Linked DNA regions of Homo sapiens. The protein of the gene in region 1 interacts with the protein of each later gene in a pairwise test. Each region holds a gene or a part of one and is shown in the gene's direction. Other genes may lie near its edges.

Region 1 (7,821 bases):
AGGTCCAAGGACTTCAGTGTATAAATGAATGTATTTTAGAAAACAGAGCCTATGCAGTGAGCTGAGATCGCATGACTGCAGCCTGGTGACAGAGAGAGACTCTGTCTCAAAAAAAAAAAAAAAAAAAGAAAAAAGAAAAGAAAAAAGAACCTAATTGTGTTATTACTATACTTAATGGCATTTGAATATAAAGTTCAGATATCTTACTAAAAACCAAATTTATAAAGGAGTTATGGGGGAATCAGCCACATTTTAACATATGTCCTCTTTTGCAGTTCCCTGTCCTTACTAAGATGCCCCTTCTAAGAGCAGGGGGCATGGTGTAGAGAGAAGGACGAGGTCACTGGTGTCAGGCGCAGCGTGTCACTGCAGATAACACAGTGCCCTCTGGACATCGTTCCTCATTCAGAATGGGCGGGGCTGGGGGAGTTGCTGCTTACTCTGCGGGGTTGAACTGGAGATGGCAGATGATGACTGTGAAGTGGGTGCCTGCTGCAGGCAGCACGCTGAAAGGCACCCATGGCAAGGAGCCAAGCCCAGCTAGCTGACATGGGCTGTGTAGCAACTGGGCACAGCAGGGGCCCTGGAACCAGGCTTGGCCCTGTTGTCCTGCTTGCAGCAGGGACAGTCCATGAGTGGGAGTCCCAAGGAGGTCTGTAAACATCTGTATGAAATGAACCTTACAAAACTCTGCAAAGCCTCTTAAGCCTTTCTCACCCAGAACCAAACTGCCTACCTTGTGCATGTCCTCCTTCTCCTGCCACACCATGCGGTGCTGCTTCTCTGGCCCCCGTAGCTGCTGTGTGAAATCTTGTCGAGGCGCCGCCTTGTCCTCAAGTTGTCACTCAAGCCTGTTTGAATATGAGCAAAAGAGGAAATAATTTGTGTTCCTTTCTGTGTAGCAACTATATGTAAACGTTGTTAGCTGACTTATTGAAATGATTTAATAATTCACAGGACTGTTTTTTTTAGTGCTGTATACTAAATAAAATACACAAGGCAGCAATACTTAGGGGCCAGAAACACTGTTTACTGCAAGTCAATTATGGAATCATAACTTACAGTAAAAATGGGCATGTCCAAGGCTCAATTTTTCTTTTGTCATTTACAGTAGAATAGTTTGTTGCTAATTTTCTACACTGTCTACTGGGAATATGTGTTACTTTTATAATCAGAAAAATAAATATTGCAGTCACGTAGCATATAATGATGTTTCGGTCAACAACAGACAGCATATATATAAGAGTGGTCCCATAAAGTTATAATACCATATTTTTCCCGTAGCTTTTCTGTGTTTAGATACATAAATCCTTGCTGTACAGGTCTGTAGCCAAGGGGCTATATGCTATACCATGTGGCCTAGGTGTGCAGTAGGCTGCACCACCTTGGTTGGTCTAAGAACACTCTGTGATGTTCTCACGTCAACGAAATTACCTGATGATGCATTGTCGAGAACGTATCCCAGCCGCTGAAGGATGCGTGGCTGGACTGAAGAGCACCGTGTGATGTGGGCTACAGCTGAGTTCTGTGCATGATGTGGTTGGAGCCCTGAGGAAGGGGGGCTATGGACTGAATGGTGTCCCCCCCCGCCAATATTAGACGCTGAAGCTCTAATCCCCAATGTGACTGTAGTTGGGGACAGGGCCTATAAGGAGATGATGAAGGTTAAGTGAGGTCATAAGGGTGGGCCCTGATCCAACAGGATTCATGTCCTTATAAGAGACCAGAGCGCTTGGATGCTACCTCCCCGTGGGAGGACATGGTGAGAAGGTGGCTGTGTGCAAACCAGGAAGAGAGGCCTCTGGGGCTTTTAGCCTCCAGAACTGTGAGAAAATAAAACCCTGCTGTTTAAGCCACTCAGTCAGTGGTATTTTTTAGGGTGCCTGGGGCTAATACAGAAGGATTCACCCTCCTGGGGAGAAGGGGCCAGTGGCCTCCTCTGATTTTCCCAGCTGTCGGCAGAACTCCGTCCCTGCCCCTCCTCCTTTTGCCAAAGCATCTTTCTAAGGGAAGACCTGATTGCACTGTTCAGAGGTCCCCAAAGGCCACAGAAAAGTCTCAACTCCTGGACCTCGTGAGTCCCATCCCACTGGGGGAGCTCCCTCTCTCTTCTCTGCTCTCCTCTCAGGAGGGAAAGTTAAGGGCCTGCTTGGCCACCCTCCAGGGAGATGACATGGTGGGATGCTGCATCCTGGTGATGAGCTGGGGGTAAGCCAGCACGTCTCCTCCAGGGCTTTCCCCAGAACTGAATACACACTAAGATGATCTTTAGGGATGGAAGACTCAAACTGGGAAGAATCACACACCTGTAGTCCCAGCCTACAAGGAAGGCTGAGGCTTGGGGATCACTTGAGGCCAGGAATTTGAGTCCAGCCTGGTCAACATAGTGAGAACCAGTGTCAAAAAATAAATAAATAAAAAGGAAGAATCAGGTGACTGTTCCAAAGTCCTCCAAAATGGGTATTGGGTCCTGACTCTGCTCTTCCCGGGACAGGGGTGTGCCTTCCCCTTTCCTGTTGGCCATAAACCCACTCCCTCTCACCAAAGAAATAAGAAAAAGTGTTCACAGCACTTTGAGTTATGTGAGGTGTGCAGAATTTATCAGGCCCAGAGAGACAGGAATATGGACTTCAGTCACACGCCTTGTACTCATGCCCTGGGGTGACTGTTTAAAGGCATTTTGTTCCTGACTAGCTCAACCCATTATCTTCCTGTTCCTGGAATTTGTGATACCAAAGACAATGTAGACAATGTAGAGACAATAAATAGCTTTTTTTTTTTTTTTGAGACAGAGTCTCGCTGTGTTGCCCAGGCTGGAGTGCAGTGGTGTTATCTCGGCTCACTGCAAGCTCCACCTCCCGGGTTCATGCCATCCTCCTGCCTCAGCATCCAGAGTAGCTGGGACTACAGGCACCTGCAGCCATGCCCGGCTAATTTTTTGTATTTTTAGTAGAGACGGGGTTTCACCGTGTTAGCCAGGATGGTCTCGATCTCCTGACCTCGCGATCCGCCTGACTTGGCCTCCCAAAGTGCTGCGATTACAGGCGTGAGCCACCACGCCCTGCCTTCTTTTTTTTTTTGAGATGGAGTTTTACTCTGTTGCCCAGGCTGGAGTGCAATGGCATGATCTTGGCTCACTGCAAACTCTGCCTCCTGGGTTCAAGTGATTATCCTACCTCAGCCTCCCAAGTAGCTGGGACTATAGGTGCTCACCACCATACCTGGCTAATTTTTGTATTTTTAGTAGAAACAGGGTTTCATCATGTTGGCCAGGCTGGTCTCGAACTCCTGACCTCAAGTGATCCTCCTACCTTGGCCTCCCAAAGTGTTGGGATTACAGGTGTGAGCCACCACGCCTGGCCCAATAAATAGCTTACGTTATTTTAATATAAATTCCTCAGGCTAGGCCAGCCGAGGTAGGAGGATCCCTTCAGGTCAGGAGTTCAAGACTAGCCTGGACAACACAGCAAGACTTCTCTAATTTCAAATTCTTGGTAAACAACTTAGGAACTGCCTCTTCTTTTCCTTTAAAAACCCACTTATAACTGCTGCTAATATTTTAAGACAACTTGCATCTCCAGGGTTGCACTTCTCAAACTTGGCCCAAATAAACTATTTTTTTTTTCAAGATGGAGTTTTGCTCTGTCACCCAGGCTTGAGTGCAGTGGCGTGATCTCAGCTCACTGTAACCTCTGCCTCCCGGGTTCAAGGGATTCTCCTGCCTCAGCCTCCTGAGTAGCTGGGATTACAGGCGCATGCCACCATGCCTTGCTAATTTTATTTTTTGTAGAAACGGGCAAGGTGGGACTCACCACGTTGCCCAGGCTGGTCTCGAACTCCTGACCTGAAGCAATCCTCCTGCCGTGGCCTCCCAAAGCACTGGAATTACAGGCATGAGCTGGTGTGCCTGGCCCAACCTCTCCACTTACGTTAATTTTGCCTCCTTTCTTCCTTTTTTTTTTGAGACAGAGTCTGGCTCTGTTGCCCAGGCTGGAGTGTGCTGTGGCCCAATCTCGGCTCACTGCAACAACTGCCTCCCAGTTTCAAGCGATTCTCCTACCTCAGCCTCCCGTGTAGCTGGGATTACAGGTGCCTACCACCAGCCAGGGTAATTTTTGTGTTTTTAGTAGAGATGGGTTTTCACCATATTGGCCAGGCTGGTCTCGGGAACTCTTGACCTCAAGTGATCCACCCGCCTCGGCCTCCCGAAGTGCTGGGATTGCAGGCGTTAGCCATCGCGCCCGGCCCGTTTTCTCCCTTTGGGTCAGAAAAGTGATTGAATCCTGCCACTTCCCGGGTGCTGGGTGGGAACAGGGAAGAGGGGGATAATTGCGGTGCTGCTGTGACTTGGGTAGATGGCGGCAAGGCCTCTCAGAGGTGGCCTTGTTTGCAAAGATCTGAATTAGGCAGGGAGAGGAGCAGGCCTGGGGCAATCAGGGAGGGGCAGTGGCACACTGGGAGCAAGGCAATGTTCCGCGACCCACAGAGGCAGCGCAGTAGCTGTTCCAATCCTGGTCGGAAGACACCCCGGAAATGCCTCAGCAACCGCGCAGCCTTTGATGACCCCGCTGCCTTCCCGCCAATCCTGCATCCAATCAGAGAGCATCCCCACTACACGTGTTGAGCAACGGCCAATCAGAACTGGGATCCGGCCCTCGGCCTGCCTCCCAGGAACTCCGAGCCAATGGCGGCCTGGCACCGGCAGGCCAATCCTGTGCGGCGCGCGTGGGCAGGTCATTGCAGTTGGGCGCTCAGCAGCTGTGGCAGCCGGTTGAGGTCTGGAAGTAGCGTTGGGCTGAAGCAGCGGAGTTCGCCATGGTAAGACCCGGGTCACTCCCGCCCCGCAGATGCCCAGGCAGACGAAGTTGGCCTCGGGTGGACAGAGGGACGTTGTTGCGGGCCTGGGCGCTGAGAGGAGGCCAGAGAAGGACGCAGGGTCTAGTGCGGGACAGGAGGACACGGGATCGTTTCCTGGATCTGCAGGTCCCAGGGCAGGGACGGCGGCTTTTGTTTTAGATGAAGCTGCCGGCCTTTAGTGGACGGGGACCATTGACGGTATCCCGTCCCCCAGAGAGCAAATAGTGGCGTCGCCTCCTGAAGACAGGAGGGCGCTGCTCCCGCTTCACACGTCTTTGTGCTACTGGAAACAGCTGAGGAGCTGCAGGAGCCTTCGGTGACGGGGGTTGGGGCTGTGGACATTGGTCAGATGAGGAATTAAGGCTCAGACGCTGCTGCAACATTGCCTTGTTCACCTAAAGGCAACCGTTAGGCCAGGCGCGGCGGCTCACGCCTGGAATCCCAGCCCTTGGGGAGGTGGAGGCGGGCGGATCCCCTGATGTCTGGAGTTCAAGATCAGCCCGACCAACATGGCGAAACCCAGTCTCTACAAAAAAATACTAAAATTACCCGGGCATGGTGATGCGAGTCTGTGGTTCCAGCTACTCGGGAGGCTGAGGTGGGAGGATCAGCCGAGCCTGGAACTTTGAGGCTGCAGTGAGTCGTGATGGCGCCAGTGCACTCCAGCCTGGGCCACAGAGACCCTGCCTCAAAAAACCAAACAAAAAAAGCAGCCCATTAACATAACAGATTCCCAAGTCCCAAGTCTGAATAGCTGTGATTTGTCAGTTATCCTTTTTTTCCTTTCTTTTTCTTTTTTCTTTTCTTTTCTTTTTTTTTTTTTTTTGAGACAGCACTCAATAAATGCTCTGTTGCCCAGGCTGGAACACAGTTGCAAGATCACGGCTCCCTGCAGCCTTGAACCCCTGGCTTCCAGCAGTCCTCCCGCCTCAGCCTTCCGAGTAGCTGGTACTACAGGTGTGTGCCACCACACCTGGCTAATTTGTAAATTTTTCATAGGGACAGGGACTCACTATGTTACCCAGGCTGGTCTCAAACTGGTCCCAAGTGATCCTCTCACCTCAGCCTTCCAAAGTGCTGGGATTACAGGAATGAGCCACCACACCCAGCTTGGCAGAGTTTAAAGAAACCACCAAAGGACAGTGCAGTGTCCCAGCACTGATGATGTCTGGGAGCCATTACACCCGTAGGCTTCAAGGGGTAGAGAGAGGGCGTGGTTACAAGAAATTAGGAGGGTAGTTTTATGAAGAGGGCAGCCTGCCAAAAGTGTAGCCTTGAGAGGGATTCAGGTCACCCACAGCAGTTGAGCAGGAAGGGGCCAAGGAGGGAGTACCCTGGCACTGCTTTCCTCCAGCCCCCCAGTATCCCACTGCTGCCTGCCATTGACCAAACCAGCAAGAAGCCAGAGGGCGAGGAAGGCCTCTGATGCTGTTCTCAAGGGTCAGCCTTCGAGAGCACAGAGCAGGTGGTGAATGATGGACGGGGTAGAACTGGGGGGCAGAGAGAGGACACACACTGAGCACCTGGGCTTGGACCATGGTGACCTGGGACCTACTCTGTATTTCCTTACCCAACCCGACTACCTTATCCTTTGATCAGGACATAATCAAAAACTGCTACTTATTCTTCAGAGAATTACTGTGACGGGCTATAATGTGGGGTTGATTATTGACATTAAATGGCTTCCAAGTTTTAAAATAACCTAAGTTTTGTGTAGTGGCAAACAGGTTCTAGGGCTACTTCTAGAACTTACTAGCTAGTATGGTTTACAGCAATTAGTTTTCACAGCGATAAAGGGATCAGTCACTAACCCTCCTAGGAAATATCGATTGTGAAAGCGCCAGATACTGAAGCACTATATAAATATTAAATTAGAATATTTTGCATGCCATATAGTTTCAAGTTGCCTTGAAATGAATGGGTTCACATTTATGTTCCGGTTCACAGCGCGAGTGTATCTCTATCCACGTGGGGCAGGCGGGTGTCCAGATCGGCAATGCCTGCTGGGAACTGTACTGCCTTGAACATGGAATTCAGCCCGATGGTCAAATGCCAAGTGATAAAACCATTGGTGGCGGGGACGACTCCTTCAACACGTTCTTCAGTGAGACTGGAGCTGGCAAGCACGTGCCCAGAGCAGTGTTTGTGGACCTGGAGCCCACTGTGGTCGGTAGGTGCCTGGGCACTGGATGGCAGCTTTCCTGAGAGGGTGGGAGAGCATTGGTAAAGCCCCGTGTGGGCTCCTTTGAATCCTCCTGCTGAAAGGATGGGATAGACAGGCATATGCCCATGGCATTGTTAGGAGAGAAACTGAAAGGTTTGTGATGAAAGTGTCTGTGAGACTCGGCTCCTAATTTAGGAAAACCTGACCTACAGGGAAAAGCTGCTTTGCCAGCAGTAAGATGGGCTGTGAAGAGATTCCCTCATGGCTGCCTCAGCCCTGCTCAGGTGGCCCTGCCTGCAGGGTGCAGTGGCATTGGTTCCCTCCCGAATGCTGTGCATTCTCTTATGCTGGTGCACGAGAGTCTTGACCTGCATCTTAGGCATAGAAGGTAAGTACAGAACAGTCATTTGCTTCCTTCAGATTCGCAGCCTGAGGTAGTTTCCAAGGAGAGCTACAAAGAGGCAGCACCTTTCAGTGGCCCCCCAGGAGATGACAGCATCACCTGAAAGCCTGTGGGACCCAGGTCATCCAGGGTGCCCTGATGGGACTGCCCTGCAGAAGTCACACTGACCTGGTGACTGCCCAGGTTGTAAGAGTTTTTAACTTACAGCCTTTGATGTAGCTACACGTAGGAAAGAATTATGTACCTGAGTAGGAGTGCAAGAGCTTATTTCCTTTCACTGGGAACTGGTCGTGCTGACATTTATACCACAAGCTGAGTTTAACGTCGTAGAGTCATAAATTGCATATGCAGTTTGGTTATCACACAGAGACATTTTCTACCAGACACTGCCACTGTT
Region 2 (7,751 bases), on another chromosome or scaffold:
AATAATAACTGCCTCTTCTGGTTTTTGTGAGGACAGAAAGAGGTAATGACTACCACGTGGCATGGTGCCCTTCACACAGTCAACATTTAACTACATTAGTTCTTGCTCTGCCCTCCCCACCTCCCATGCTCTGTGAAAGTCACTTACTTATTTCACCCTCTCCACCCACAAATTCAGTGTCCAGCTTGGGGTCACAAGGAAAGTTTCTGGACGGCCAGGCGCAGTGGCTCATGGTTGTAATCATAGCATATTGGGAGGCCAAGGCGGGCAGATCACTTGAGGTCAGGAGTTCAAGACCAGCCTGGCCAACATGATGAAACCCCATCGCCACTAAAAATACAAAAATTAATCGGGTATAGTGGCGTGTGCCTGTAGTCCCAACTACTCAGGAGGCTGAGGCAGGAGAATAGCTTGAACCTGGGAGGCGGAGGTTGCAGTGAGCCGAGATTGCTCCACTGCACTCCAGCCTGGGTGACAAAGCGAGGCTCCATCTTAAAAAAAAGAAAAAGAAAAAAATAGAAGAAAGCATCTGGGCAATTTGGAAGAGGTTATCTACCAAGCCTTGAGGCCTGCAAGAGCTCTAGGCAGCCAGTAGGTAAGAGTGAGCAATATACCCAGAGGAAAAAGGCTGTGTTCTCACTAGGGGGAAGGAGGGCCTATGGTTACAGGCATCAGAGAGTGATTCAGCACTCACAGGAAACCATGAGAGGCCTGTCAGTAGCCACCCAGGGCCTCCTTTTGAAAACCCTTGCAGAGTGAAAAAACAGCAGGGGTGCCCTAAGCATGAGATAAAGAAGAGTGTGTGGGGACCTCTAGGGTGAGTGAGGGACAACAGGATCCTACTCACCCAAGGCCAGTCATCCAGCTCTCAGGCTCTGCTTCCAGCCCCAGTTCAGACACACCTGTTTCCCAGGGAGGGAGGAGGACAGATAGGGAACAGGAACAGGGAGTCCTTGTGGCTGATCCCTGGACTTCCCTGGGGCACGTCCTCCTGGGCCAACGAAAATAGAGTGAGCAGAGAAATGTGAGCCTCCTGGGGAATGGAAATTGAGACAGGGAGACACAGCTTCACTGTGGGCGGCTTGCCCCTAGGCCGCTCTCCCTAGCCCAGGTGGCCCAAGCCAGAGAGCTAACTTTCTCTGGCCCCCAGACTCCAAGTCCAAGTAGCTGAACCTTAACATTTGATCATGAAAGTGGGGACTGTCCCCACATATTGACAATCTATTGTGTGCTCTCATCCAATCCTTACAACAATGCTGTGAGGCAGACTCATTCACTTTTCACAGTGAGAAGACTGAGGTTCACAGAGATTAAATGACTACAGATACTAGAGCCTAATGGTGAAGCTCATTTTTGGCATAGGGTGCTATGACTTCTGACTGTCCAGATTTGATTTTTTATTTTTATTTTTTTCCCCAAGACAGAATCTTGCTGTGTCGCCCAGGCTGGAGTGCAGTGGTGCAATCTTGGCTCACTGTAACCTCCTCCTCCTGGGTTCAAGCGATTCTCCTGCCTCAGCCTCCCAAGTAGCTGGGATTACAGGCATGCACCACTACAACCAGCTAATTTTTGTATTCTTAGTAGAGGCAGAGTTTCACCATGTTGGCCAGGCTGGTCTCAAACTCTTGACTTCGTGATCCGCCTGCCTCAGCCTCCCAAAGTGCTGAGATTACAGGCGTGAGCCACCGCCCCCAGTCGGTTTGATTTTTTTTTTTAATAGAGATCGGGGTCTCATTATGTTGCCAGATCTGGTCTTTTTTTTTTGAGACGGAGTCTCGCTCTGTCACCTAGGCTGGAGTGCAGTGGTACAATCTCGGCTCACTGCAAACTCCACCTTCCGGGTTCACGCCATTCTCCTGCCTCAGCCTCCAGAGTAGCTGGGACTACAGGCACCTGCTACCACGCCTGGCTAATTTTTTTGTATTTTTAGTAGAGACGGGGTTTCACTGCGTTAGCCAGGATGGTCTTGATCTCCTGACCTCGTGATCCGCCCGCCTTGGCCTCCCAAAGTCCTGGGATTATAGGCGTGAGCCATCGCGCCTGGCCCAGATCTGGTCTTAAACTGTTGGGCTCAAGCAATCCTCCTGCCTCAGCCTCCCAAAGTGCTGGGATTACAGGCAAGAGCCACCAAGCCCGGCCAACCATTGGGATTTGTATCCTAGCTTTGCCATTATTACCTGTGTCGCCCTTGCCAGGTTACTTAATCTCTCTGTGCCTCCATTTTCTCATCTTTAAAATGAGGATGAAAATATATATTTAGGCCAGGAATAGTGGCTCATGCCTGTAATCCCAGCACTTTGTGGGGCTGAGGCAAGAGGATTGCTTGAGCCCAGAAGTTCAAGACCAGCCTGGGCAACTTAATAAGACCCCTGCCTTTACAAAAAATTAAAATTAAAATAAATTAGCTCAGTGTGGTGGCCCACACCTGTAGTCCCAGTTACTTGGGAGACTGAGGTAAGAGGATCGCTTGAGCCCAGGAGGTTAAGGTTACAGTGAGCCGTGATTACACCACTGCACTCCAGCCTGGGTGACAGAGCAACACACTGTCTCAAAAACAAACAAATATAGATGCACATATATTTAATAAAGTTATTGAATAATCAGGTATGTCAATATATGTAAAGTGTTCAGGACTGGTGCAAAGAAAGAACTCAGGAAGTACTGGCTCTCATTAAGGCTATTTAGGAGAGATTAGAGCCATGCATCAAGAACAGAGATTCCAATACTCTGCCTTTTATCAGGCCCCTTCTGTACTCACTCATAACCCCTTGCTTTCTGAAGGCTCCCCACCTTTGCCCTCCCGTCCCCCAGAGCTGACCTCCTCTTGGTACCCACTCCACCAAGGCTGAGTAGTCTTCACTGCACTCCCCTGGGCTGGGAGTCTCTTACACCTGCAAGATACATCCCAGAGAGGCTGGGCATGGTCACTCATGCCTGTGGTCCCAGCACTTTGGGAGGCTGGGGCAGGCAGATCAGATCTTGAGGTCAGGAGTTTGAGACCAGCCTGGCCAAGATGGTGAAACCCCGTCTCTACTAAAAATACAAAAAAAAAATTTAGCCGGGCGTGGTGGTGCACACCTGCAGTCCCAGCTACTTGGGAGGCTGAGGCAGAAGAATCGCTTGAACCTGGGAGGTGGAGGTTGTAGTGAGCGGAGAGTGCGCCACTGCACTCCGGCCTGGGCAACAGAGCAAGCCTCCATCTCAAAAAAAAAAAAAAAAAAAAAAAAAAAAAAAATCCCAGAAAAAGGCCCCATCCATGGGCTGGATGCTCACTGCCTGGACTCCAGATAGCAGGTGCCTGTGATCCAAACCGAGGATGTTAGAGGGGCATACATACTGAAGCAGTGTCTGGTATCCATTCATTCATCAGATGTTTATTATGTGCCGGATATTGGAGTAAGTACTGAGAAGGCAGTGGGGAACAAAACGGAGCCCTGCCTTCATGGCTCTTACCATTTAGGCAACAACAGCAATAATAAGCAAGCAATGATTTAATTTTGAAAGGAAACCAGACCTGGTGGGTGACTTGGGACCCAGGAACCCAGGCATGATGCAGAGATGGGACGGAAAGGTTCTCAGGAGCCCCAGCCTGGGAGGGTGTTAGTTCCTCCGTGAGAGCTCTGCTACACCCAGCCTGGGGTGTGGGGAGGCCTCTGTGGGCACCTGAATCTTCACTCTAGATGCTAAGGTTATTCCGGGGTTGATTTGTTGTCTCTTGTTTCCACAAACAGCACAGTAGAGCCTCCTGCCTCCCTCCCTCCCCCACCTCTTCCAGACTGAGGCTATTTATTCCTAGTGACAAGCCTGAGGATCCCAGGGGGGGTGGCCTTAAGGACCTGGAGGGGCCTCGTGTCCCTAGCAGGCGCCAGTCCTCCCTCACGGACACAGGGAGGAAGCCAGAGGCTCAGACACCGCAGAGGTCCCCTCCCCTCTCCTCCACCACCCCTGAGGTGCCCCATCCTCTCACACTCCTCACACCCCACCCTAGAAGCCCAAAGATCATGGGGCCGAGGATTAGGGTCTCCCCCGGGCCTCAAAGGTCAAAACTATTCCTGGGCACTGCGGAAACCCAGGCAAGGCAGGACTTCTCAGTGTCAGGAGGCTGCTGGAAGTGGGGAGGTGGTTACCCCTGTTTTTGCTACTCAAAGTTGTGGAATAAAACCCTTTGGAGGTCAAGGCCCTATGGTGGGGAGGGGTCCTCTCTTCGTCCCATGTTTTCAGAGAACACCTTGGTGCCCGCTGACAGGCTCATGACAGCAGAGTCAAAACGTCCTCCTCCAGGCTGGATTAAGGCCGGGCTGAGTGTCACCCCTGGGGTAAGGTGAAGGGGTGGGGGGATCCGAGGAGGCCAGAGGACTCCCCCAGTGGACCATGGTCTGCGGGGTCTCGTGTCGCCGGCCTGAGATGGAATACAGCAGTCTCCCTCTGGCAGCTGGGGATGGGGGGTGGGAGGGGAGGAGAACAGAGGCTGCGGGGAGGGGACAGGGGCGGGGTCCCGGCCGCTTGAAGGTTGGGAGAGCCAGGTTAGGCCGGGCGGGAGGAGGGGGCCGGGCCGACTGGCGGCCGAAAGGGAGGTGGGGGCGGGGTCTGGCCCCCGCGGCGGGCTGGGGGGCCGGGGGCGGGGTCCGGGCGGGGCGGGCCCGCGCTCACTTCCTCGGGGAGGGGTTGGGGCCGCGCTCCCACTCGCCCACACGGTCCGTCTGCAGTCGGCAGCCTCGCCGGCAGCTCGCTCGGCCCCCGCTTGGCCCGGCCCGCAGGTAGGAGCCGCCGAGGGACGCGGCGCCCGGTTCCCGGCCCCGCCTGCGCCGCGCGCTCCCCGCTCCCGCCGCCCGCTTCGAGGTGAGCGCCCCGCCGACCCCGGCTCCCAGCCCTGGCGGTCCGCCCCCGCGCCCAGGCCGGGGAGCGAAGGGACCCGCGGAGGGCTGAGGCCAGCCGCGGCCCCGGTCCCCTGTACCCGCCGGGCTCTGGCCACGGGTGCCCGGGGCACGCCGAGCCCGGGACAGCGCCCGCCGGGACTGGACCCCTCCGGGCTATCGGGCGGGGCGGGGGCGGGGGCGGCAGCGAGAGTTGGGCGGGGGAGGGGGCTAAGTTTGAAATAGAAAAGCCGGAGAGAGACAGACAGACCGACCGACCAGAAGCGCTGGAGAAACTGAGGTTCTCGGAAAGCCCGGTGGAGCGAGAGACCGAGACAGGCAGGGACTCGAGGCACAGGAGGCTACCGAGACCACTGAAACAAGGACACACCGGGCGTACAGAGTTACTGGTGGACAGACCCGAGGCATGGGGGCCGTCCTAGGCTTTGTGGAGCATTTTCAGAAAAAGCATACGTGGGACCCCAGCGAACACATTCCCTAGGGCCCTTCCCCGGGCCTTGGAGGTGCCCTGAGGCTTGGGCGTCATTGGCCTCATGCTGAATCTGCTCTCTGAGGCCTGCAGAGACGCTCAGAGACTAGAGACAGAGACATTCAGGCGTGCAGAGGTGGCGAAAGAGACTTGGATGCAGAGACAGAGAAAGGGAGGTGGTGGGGATTGAGACATTCAGCCATGTAGACAAGAAGAGACCAAGACTTGAGATCCACAGAGGCATGGGCCCCCTGGGGGACAGCCAGTCAAGATACAGAGCCGTCCAAAACCTAAAGACAGAGACTGAAGTGTGCCCAGACACAGAGATGCTGAGTGAAGCAGAGACAGACACCAGAAACTGAGACTAAGTGGGGGCAGAGAGACCTAGGTGGTCTGACAGCTTCCAGGACAGCCCCTGACTTACCCGGGCCTGAACCATTGGGAGGTGAGGCTGTGGGGAAACAGAAACTCTGAGCCTACCGATCCCCCATGAGGCAGAGGCCCTGAGACAGTAAGTTCGAGATCAAGAAGAGCCCCACGCACACACACAGCCACCAAGACAGCCCCAACTTATTTTTGAACTCAAATCTTGGATGGGCTGCCTCAGCCCTGGGGGACCCAGGGTGAATGAACTGTTCCTCTCATGTCCCCAGAGCAGCTGCGGGATCTTGCTCCCCAACCCCCTTCCCTAAACTTCTCTGACTTCCAGGCCACATGGGGGAGAGCAGAGCTTGGGGTTGGTGCCCGGTAGCAGAGGGTGAGGGTTGAGGGAGTTGGATTTCTCCCCTTAAGTCTCCTGTCAGCTTCTAGAAGGTGGGGGAGGGGTCTGTTCTGATCCTGACTCACAGCTGTGGGACCTGGCCAGGGTCCTCCTGGACAGTGGGCATGTTGGGGGTGGGGGCAGAAGGATTGAATGGTTGGCATGGGGCATTGGAAAGGCTTCTGGGTGTCTTCCAATCACAGGGCTAGCAGCTGAGGAGAAGAGCCAGGCTCTGGTGCATCTCCTGTTCCCCTGCCCTTAAAAACTGACCACCCCCATGTCACCATCCGCTTCATCACCAGGGCAGCATTTTTAGGGAGAGGGAAGAGCTCTGGGCTGGGAGGCAGGGGACCTGGGTCCTGATCGGGACCTTGGGCATGAACCTGCTCTATTCCTGGCCTCCTTGTGCTCAGCTGTAAAATGGGGATGATACTCTGTCCTGCCTGCCTTTTGTGAGATCTGATGAGATTGTGGTGGGCATGGACTTTGTGAGTGGCAAAGCAGCATGCAGGTGTCTACATCCGTGGACCTGCATGAGAGATCTCAAGAGTTAAGCTTACTAGAGTCAGGCTGACCGGACTGAAGCGACCACTTTCCCCACTGGTGTCCTCAGCAAGCCCCATGGGCCTGGGGCCCCCTATTCTCTCCCTGGGCCTATGCTGAGAATGTCCAGGTCAAATTTCAGACCAGGCTGGGCACAGTGGCTCACGCCTGTAACCCCAGCACTTTGGAAGGCTGAGGCCAGAGGATCACTTGAAGCCAGGAGTTCAAGACCACCCTGGGCAACATAGTGAGAACCCCATCTCTACAAAAAATAGAAAAACCTAGCTGGGCATGGTGGCACATGGCTGTAGTCCCATCTACTCAGGAGGCTGAGGCAGGTGGTTTGCTTGAGCCCAGAGTTGTTTTTTTTGTTGTTGTTTTGTTTTGTTTTGAGACAGAGTTTTGCTGTTGTAGCCCAGGCTGGAGTGTAATGACATGATCTTGGCTCACTGCAACCTTCACCTCCTCGGTTCAAGCAATTCTCCTGCCTCAGCCTCCTGAGTAGCTGGGCTTACAGGCGCCCGCCACCATGCCTAGTTAATTTTTGTATTTTTAGTGGAGATGGGTTTTCACCATGTTGGCCAGGCTGGTCTTGAACTCCTGACCTCAGGTGATCCACCGGCCTTAACCTCCCAAAGTGCTGGGATTACAGGTGTGAGCCACCTCACCTGGCTGAGCACAGAAGTTCGAGGCTGCCGTGAGCCATGATCGTGCCACTGCACTCCAGCCCTGGCAACAGAGTGAGACCCCAACTCAAAACAAAAAAAAAAAACAAAAAGGCTGAGCGGACACCAGCTTGGCCAACATGGCGAAACTCTCCATCTCTACTAAAAATACAAAAATTAGCTGGGCATGGTGGTGCCCTCCTGTAATCCCAGCTACTTGGGAGGCTGAGGCAGAAGAATCGCTTGAACCTGGGAGGTGGAGATTGCAGTGAGCCGAGATGGAGTTAACTGCGCTCCAGTCTGGGTGACAGAGTGAGACCCTGTCTCAAAAAAAAAAAAAAAAAAAAAATTGGGCTGGCACTGTGGCTCATGCCTGTAATCCCAGCACTTTGGGAACCCAAGGCAAGAGGATAGCTTGAGCCCAGGAGTTTGAGACCAGC
Region 3 (7,241 bases), about 21 Mb from region 1:
ATATAATATTGAGATTTACTGCTATCTTACAGCCTTGAATACTACAGATAAATGTTTATTTTTGAGCCTTTAGTTTATAAGCAAAACACTAATTGTTCTTCTTTATAGCATTGTCAAGGATACCAACTTTATTCTCTATGTACTTTATTTAACACAACAAAATTTTCTAAGTGATTGTTTATGTTTATATGATAAATCAGTGGTCCAGGCAGATTTGACAAGATAAAGTCCTTTATTCTTTAATTTTATTATTATTATTTTGCTTGAATTTATTTCTATTTCTAAGTATTTGATCTACCTCATAATATTTTATTCACTTATAAAAACTTATTCACACACATGAGTATGAAAAGCTATACAAAGGGGTTGTTATAACATTGGGTCCAGAGTATTTTACTCCTACTCTAGTATTTAATGACTAGTTAGAAATAACTATTTATACAGTGTGCACTAGGTACAGTTACTGCAGGTAACATAAAATAAATTTTTAAATGACCTTATTTCTTAAAAGTACTTTTCTAGGGAGGAAGAACAAAGATAAAGAAAATGTAAGAGAAAAATTGAAAAAAAATCTCACCGTAGTATAAGATGAAACAAGTACAATTTAGTGAGTGCTTTCCATGGGCAGAGCACTGTGTTTAGTCCTTGAAATGCATCTCTATCTCATGCACCACACCTTTATTTTATAGATGAGAAAATTGAAGCTGAGAAACTTCAGTAACTAAAAATTGAAATTCAAACCCATTTCTGACACCAAAACCATGCTTTATTTATTTATTTACTTTTTGACAGGGTCTCGTGCTATTGCCCAGGTTGAAGTACAGTGGTGCAGTCACAGCTCACTGCAGCCTTGAACTCCTGGACTCAAGTGATTCTTCTGCCTCAGTTTCCACAAATGCTGGGTTTATAGTCATGAGCCACCATGTCTGGCCAAAATCATGCTTTTAACTATACAGTACTGCTTGCCTGATAAAAGAGTAAGTATTTTCCTTTACCACTTATGTAGTCCAATGGGAACACTCTTGAAAACTAGAAGGAAGTTACAGAATTCATTTGTATCCCCCCAGGATCTTGCACAATACTGGGCATAAGTGTTCCAGTTTCCCCAAGGATGAACTGCAAACCAGATCAACACAATCTTAGCAACAGCAGCATAAGCTTGGTGTAGTAGCCTTTTCTTAAAAGAGAATCATCATGTAATAGATATCAGGTAGCTTTCTCATAGTTTGCATAATCACTAAACTCTTGGTGCCTCCCATTTGTTTTATGCTATATTAGTCCTTTTGGACTGTTATAATAAAACATCATAAACTGGTAGTTTATAAACAACAGAATTTATTTTTCACAGTTCTGGAAGCTGCAAGTCTAAGATCCAGGGTCCTGCAGATCTAGTGTCTGGTGAGAGCCAGCTTATTGATTCATAGATTACCTTCTGTCTGTGTCCTCACATGGCAGAAGAGGTCAACAAACTCCTTTGGACCTCTTTGATAAGGGCATTAATCTCATTCATTTAGGCTCCACCCTTTATGACCTAATCATCTCCCAAAGGCCCCAGCCCTAATACTGTCACCTTGGGGGTTAGGATTTCAACATACGAATTTTGGAGGAACACAAACATTTAGTCCATTGCACATCCCTCTGAGATTTTTCACCCGATCTTTCTTCTCAGTCTACTTTCTCTACCTTAATGAATCAACTCAATTTTCACCTCTTCTGTGAAGGAAACTTCCCTGACCTCCTCAGGTAGAGGGGACTACGCTCTCCTTTGTTTTTTACTACTTCTGGTATCCTACCCCTTCCAACACACATTAGACTGTATGTAATACTGGTGTGTGTGTGTGTGTGTGTCTTTATAGAAAGCCTGGGAGGAGTTCATTGCCATGTAGTCAGGGAGACAAATGTGTAACATAATATTCACCTCACATCTGTGTAGATTTACATGAGATATCCAAGGCACAGAGTGCTGCAGCTCATGTGCAACATATTTATTGAGTGCATGATAACATCAATAAATAACTTTTATATTAGGAGAGGGCGTAATTTACTAGAGCATTCCTCGAAAGGTCCCATCAGAAACTCCCCAAGATTTTAATAACTGTTCCTTGAAAAAAAGAATATATCGCTCAAATTGATTTGATAAGTTCAAGGTTGAATAAAGTTAAAATTTTTAATATGCACAAATTTTTAATTTTTCCCTGCAATACTTCTTGGAACTCTTAATGTGCCAATGTGCATTGTGAATTTCCAAAAGTGGATTCAGAATGCAGCATTTCCTAATTGTATTGGGCCATAAAATTCCATGTTCTCCATGTACCCTAGGACACAGTTTGGAGATATTGTTGAGAGTAGAGTATGATATCATTGTCACCATATATTAACTGCTTGATTTTGGGTCACCTCTTTATGCCTTAGTTTCCTCAACTGCAAAATGGGGATAATACCTTCCTGCCTGCTTCAGACAGGTGAAAAGAAATGGGAATAATACCTATATCTAATATTGTTGTTGGCAAAACAAAAAGGTTTATAAAATGTCCAGGAGTTCTTAGTAGATGTTAGCAATTACAATTATTAATAGTATGTCCAGGAGCCAACTCTTCATCTTCAGATCTCTAACACTTTGCAGAATACCAGATTTGAAGCTGAGTTAAATTCAGACTGTTAGTACATGTCTCAGCTTTAGAATGTAGGTGTCCAAAAAGACTTCCCCTCCACCTGTATCATTTGCCTTTTAAACAGAATCTGAGTCAATATATTAAGTTAGTCCTGTTCTGGCCATGGTCCTGTCCTTTAGTATCTTCTTGTAAAAAATAAAAATAAGAAGAAATGAGGTTCAACTAAATAACCTCGAGAGTTCATATTCCCTCTAAAATTTCAAGGTAAAACTAAAGTAATTCTTTCTCAAGTTGCAGCAGAAGGAGTTTTTGTATTTTCTAACTGGTCTGATAAGCACAAAGAAGTCGTTTTTTTTACTTAGAAATGCCATTTTACAGGAGGCTGAGGTGGTGGGATCACTTGGGCCAGAGCTCAAGATCAGCCTGGGAAACAGTTAGATACCTGCCCCCAGCACCCAAATTAAAAGTACAAAAAATCTGGGTGCGGTCGTGAATTCCTGTAATCCCAGCTACTTGGGAGTGGAGGTGGAAGGACTGCTTGAGCTCAGGAGTTGGAGACTGGGCAACAGAGCAAGACTCATCTCAAAAAAAAAAAAAAAAAAGAGAAATGTCACCACTTTAAACTGGTTCCCATCAACCTTTTTGATACAAAGAAATTTTACTTTTGTTAAACTATTTTAGACCACTGTATCAGTTATTATATGTGACTAGGTAGCATGATAACCTATAATTTATGCCTTGAAATAATTTTGACTCATTTTCTTCCCACATCTGTATTTATGAGCCGGGGCAGCTGTGGGGTGGTTCTTTGTGTGGGATTAAGAGACACTGCAGTTCTTGAAATAAACCAGATGTTTGAATTTTCAAAGGAAAAGTTCACACCTAGTGAAGTATTTATTTACAAGCTCCACAACAAAACAAGAGATTATAAGAAAACTTTCAAGGGACATGGGTCACAGAAACCAACAGGAACACCACAGCTTTCCCAACTTCATGGCCCCGGGGGATGTTACAAAAGACACAGAAACGCCGATCTTGTGCTGACTGTAAACATTTGTCAACTAGTGTTACAATGACTAAGAAATTACAAAAGAGTTACAATCTGATGAAGAGCGATTCCTGCTTTGACTTTATTTGGTTTCTATCCACTTTTCCAACATACCTTATAAAATACATGCAAAAAACTGGTTTTAGAAAGCGTTCCCTAAAATTAGTGTGTACGGAAACTTCAGGTATACTTCTGCTTTCCTCCGCAAAACCACCCCTTTTTAAAAATCGAAAGTGAAATTAGTTTTTTTTTCTGTTAGTGACTAATCATTGGAGACAACCATGTTTAGTATTTGAGCATTGGTTAAATGCTAAAGAAAAATCGCCGTTAAAGCAGTTTTCTTTTTCACTGTCTTTTTCTTTTCGCGGGGAACCCAGCTGTTCCTGCGAGGGCCACCTCCTCAGGAAGACCCCGCAGCTCTCCCGCGGCGCTTCTGCAGGAGGCAGCGACAGTTTCGAGAACCCGGGCCTTCCCCTCCCAGTGCCTCCCGGGGTTCCGGCGTTTCAGGCGCTGCTGTTTTCCGGGAAGGGCAGGCGCGCTGGGCCTTGGGGAGCTGCGCTCGGCGGGCGGACGCGGGTGAGTGGGGAGTCCCTTCCCCGGCTGCCACTCCCGCCGCTGGCAGTCCCGGGCTGGAGAGCCGGGGGTGGAAAGGGAGGTGGGAGCCCTCAGCGCCGACGGAAGTGGGACAGCGCCGGAGTTGAGACCCTGCTCCCCGGGAGCTGCCCGCAGCCGAGTCGCGGAGGCCACGCCGCCTTCGAGGGGGCGCACCTGCTCCTGGGCCCGCTGTGCAGTCTCTGGGCCGTCAGGGCTTCGAGCCTTGTCACTTGTTTGCTTTGCTTCATTGAGGAAATTGAAACATAAAGTTATTTGTGTTTCCTCGCTGTTTTCTCTCTTTTTTTTTTTTTTTTTTTTTTTTGAGACGGAGTCTCGCTCTGTCGCTCAGGCTGGAGTGCAGTGGCGCGATCTCGGCTCACTGCAAGCTCCGCCTCCCGGGTTCACGCCATTCTCCAGCCTCAGCCTCCCGAGTAGAGTAGCTGGGACTACAGGCGCCCGCCACCACGCCTGGCTAATTTTTTTTTTTGTATTTTTAGTAGAGACGGGGTTTCACCGTGTTAACCAGGATGGATACGATCTCCTGACCTCGTGATCCGCACGCCTCGGCCTCCCAAAGTGCTGGGATTACAGGCGTGAGCCACCGCGCCCGGCCCTCGCTGTTTTCTCCGAGTGTCTCTGGAGATAGTCCTTAGGAAAACGGATTTCTTAAGAAAACGATTCTTGGTAGGGGCAGTGTTGTGCAGTCATGGCTGGCGTGTCAGAATAGGCAAGGTTTTTCTTGAAGGAGACATCCGAAGGAGAATACTGTGTTTCCAGTCTGTACAACAGGCAGACGTTCTATTGCCTTTCTTTTTGCTGCCACGCATGCATATAGGAAGATTCGATTCTACACGGCCTGGCACCGCAGTTATATGATTGTATTACGGAAATACGGTGATGTTGATTTGTATCAGTTTTTTTAATTCGCTGCCATAACAAATTACATGGCTTTAGTGGCTTAAACACATAGGAACGCGCGCGCGCGCGCACACACACACACACACACACACTCACATACACAATTTACTATCTTAGGATTCTGTAGCAGTCCTACTGAGGTCTCACTGGGTTAAAATCAAAGTGTTGGCAGGGTTGCCTTCCTTTCTGGAAGCTCTTGGGGTGAATCCTCTTTCCATCTTCCGGAGGCCACCTACCTTATTTGGCTCAGCAGCCCTTCCTCCATCTTCAGGGCCAGCAACATTGCGCCTCTGAAAGTTCTTCCGGGGTCACATTTCACTCTTGACTCTTCTTCTGTCTTCCGCTTTCACTTTTAAGTAGCCTCATGATTACACTGGGCTCCCACAGATAATCCAGGATGCTCTCCATATTTAAAAGCAAGCTGATTAGCAACCTTAATTCAATCTGCAGCCTTAATTCTCCTTTGCAATATAAACTAACATAATCACAGATTCTTGGGATTAAGATGTGGACATCTTTGAGGGAGCCATTGTTTTGCCTACTACATGATTGCATAAAAGGAATGACCATACATCCCACTCATGCATAGAGCAAAAGTATCCAGATGCAAAAGATGCCAAAAGGGTTCTGGTGGTGTTAGATAGTAGACCATTTATGCTGAGAGCCTTTATTACAGGCTCTTGGAATATTGGCATTGTCACAATAATAAAAATAAAAAGCAATTAAATAACATTGCAGTTTCTGTCTTCTGAAATGTAATAAGAGGACTTCATATACATGTGATGTCCTGAGTACAACAAATACTTAAGTCAAGATACCACATAATTCTCTAAATGGAGTGTTTTCAGTGTGTAAGCTTATACTGAGAAAGTGCTCTGAATGTCTGCAGGGAGGAGTAGACATGGTCCCAGCCCTCAACATGTTTACTGATGTGTCACGGAAAATGACATAGGTACACACGTAATTAAAGCGCCGCAAAGGAGATAAAGGAGGGGGAGTAACATCCTTTGGGGGAATCAGAAAAGGCTTCGGGAGCTTGGGGAAAATTTGGAATGGACCTTGAAGAACAGTAAGATTTCATTAGATGGAGATTAAGTTTGGGAGAGGAGGAAGGATGTGACAGTTTGAGGGACAGAGGAAAGAAAAGGAACTATCCAAGTGTTCAGTGTGGTTAGGGAACTGGGTTGAGGAATTGACTAAATAGGACGGGAAAGTGAGTTGGAGTTAGAATGTATCAGACCATGGCTGACCATTAAGAAGATTTTGCAGTTGTTGATACAATAGCGATATATATGTATATATGTATGCGTGTGTGTGTGTGTGTGTGTATGTGTGTGAGAGAGAGAGAGAGAGATGTGGTTTAAATATATATATACTTATATATATATATCGTCTCAAGGCATCTCAAACTTACAGAAAAGTTGCAAGTACAGTAAAACAACTTTTCCTTTTCCTAAATTATTTAAGAATAAATTTCCAATCTGGTGACCTATCATCTTTCATTATATACTTGAGTATATATTTCCTACAAAAAAGATGTGCTCCGACATAACCACAATACAGTCATCAAAATCAGGAATGTGGAGTGCTACGTTACTACAATTTAATAATCAGATCCAATGTGAATTTCACCAGTTGTCCTGATAGTGTCTTGGATAGTGTAGGGGTCAAGGGAAAACTTCCTCTTTGCTCTCTGAAGGGCAAAGGCAGATTAAAAAGGAGAAATGGCATACAAATTTATTAATGTGCACAGGGGAAAAAAATCACATAGTGATGATACTGCACAATGGGGTACAGATGGTTATATTCCCTACTTTTTAGGGGAAAGGGAGATGTGGAAGTGTGGATGATTATAGGGGGTTAGTAAATGATTTTTAAAGGAATTCAAGGGACTCGAAGAACATACAATGGCCTTGGACAAAGCCTGTTGGGCTTGCAGAACAGACAGTGGTTGTAACCCAGGTTTGTTGACAGACTTCAGTCTTCTTTCTGTGATATGAATTCAGAATTAAAAACTCAGGGAAGGGACTAGAGGTAATTGTTCTGTTTTCTGGCAGGTCCCACATTTA

What was found.
Region 2: the proteins of TUBA3E (region 1) and FHL3 interact in binary tests that used the Homo sapiens proteins (3 or more experiments, as listed by UniProt).
Region 3: the proteins of TUBA3E (region 1) and NMI interact in binary tests that used the Homo sapiens proteins (3 or more experiments, as listed by UniProt).

Annotation. Positions count from the first base shown.
Region 1 is NC_000002.12:130,195,355-130,203,175, reverse strand, and holds the start of TUBA3E (tubulin alpha-3E chain), read left to right. Parts: upstream 1-4,736; 5' UTR 4,737-4,815; coding exon 4,816-4,818; intron 4,819-6,804; coding exon 6,805-7,027; intron 7,028-7,821. UniProt on the Homo sapiens protein: Tubulin is the major constituent of microtubules, a cylinder consisting of laterally associated linear protofilaments composed of alpha- and beta-tubulin heterodimers.
Region 2 is NC_000001.11:38,002,445-38,010,195, reverse strand, and holds the start of FHL3 (four and a half LIM domains protein 3), read left to right. Parts: upstream 1-4,681; 5' UTR 4,682-4,839; intron 4,840-7,751. UniProt on the Homo sapiens protein: Recruited by SOX15 to FOXK1 promoters where it acts as a transcriptional coactivator of FOXK1.
Region 3 is NC_000002.12:151,286,588-151,293,828, reverse strand, and holds the start of NMI (N-myc-interactor), read left to right. Parts: upstream 1-4,160; 5' UTR 4,161-4,236; exon of another isoform or gene 4,237-4,938; intron 4,939-7,241. UniProt on the Homo sapiens protein: Acts as a signaling pathway regulator involved in innate immune system response.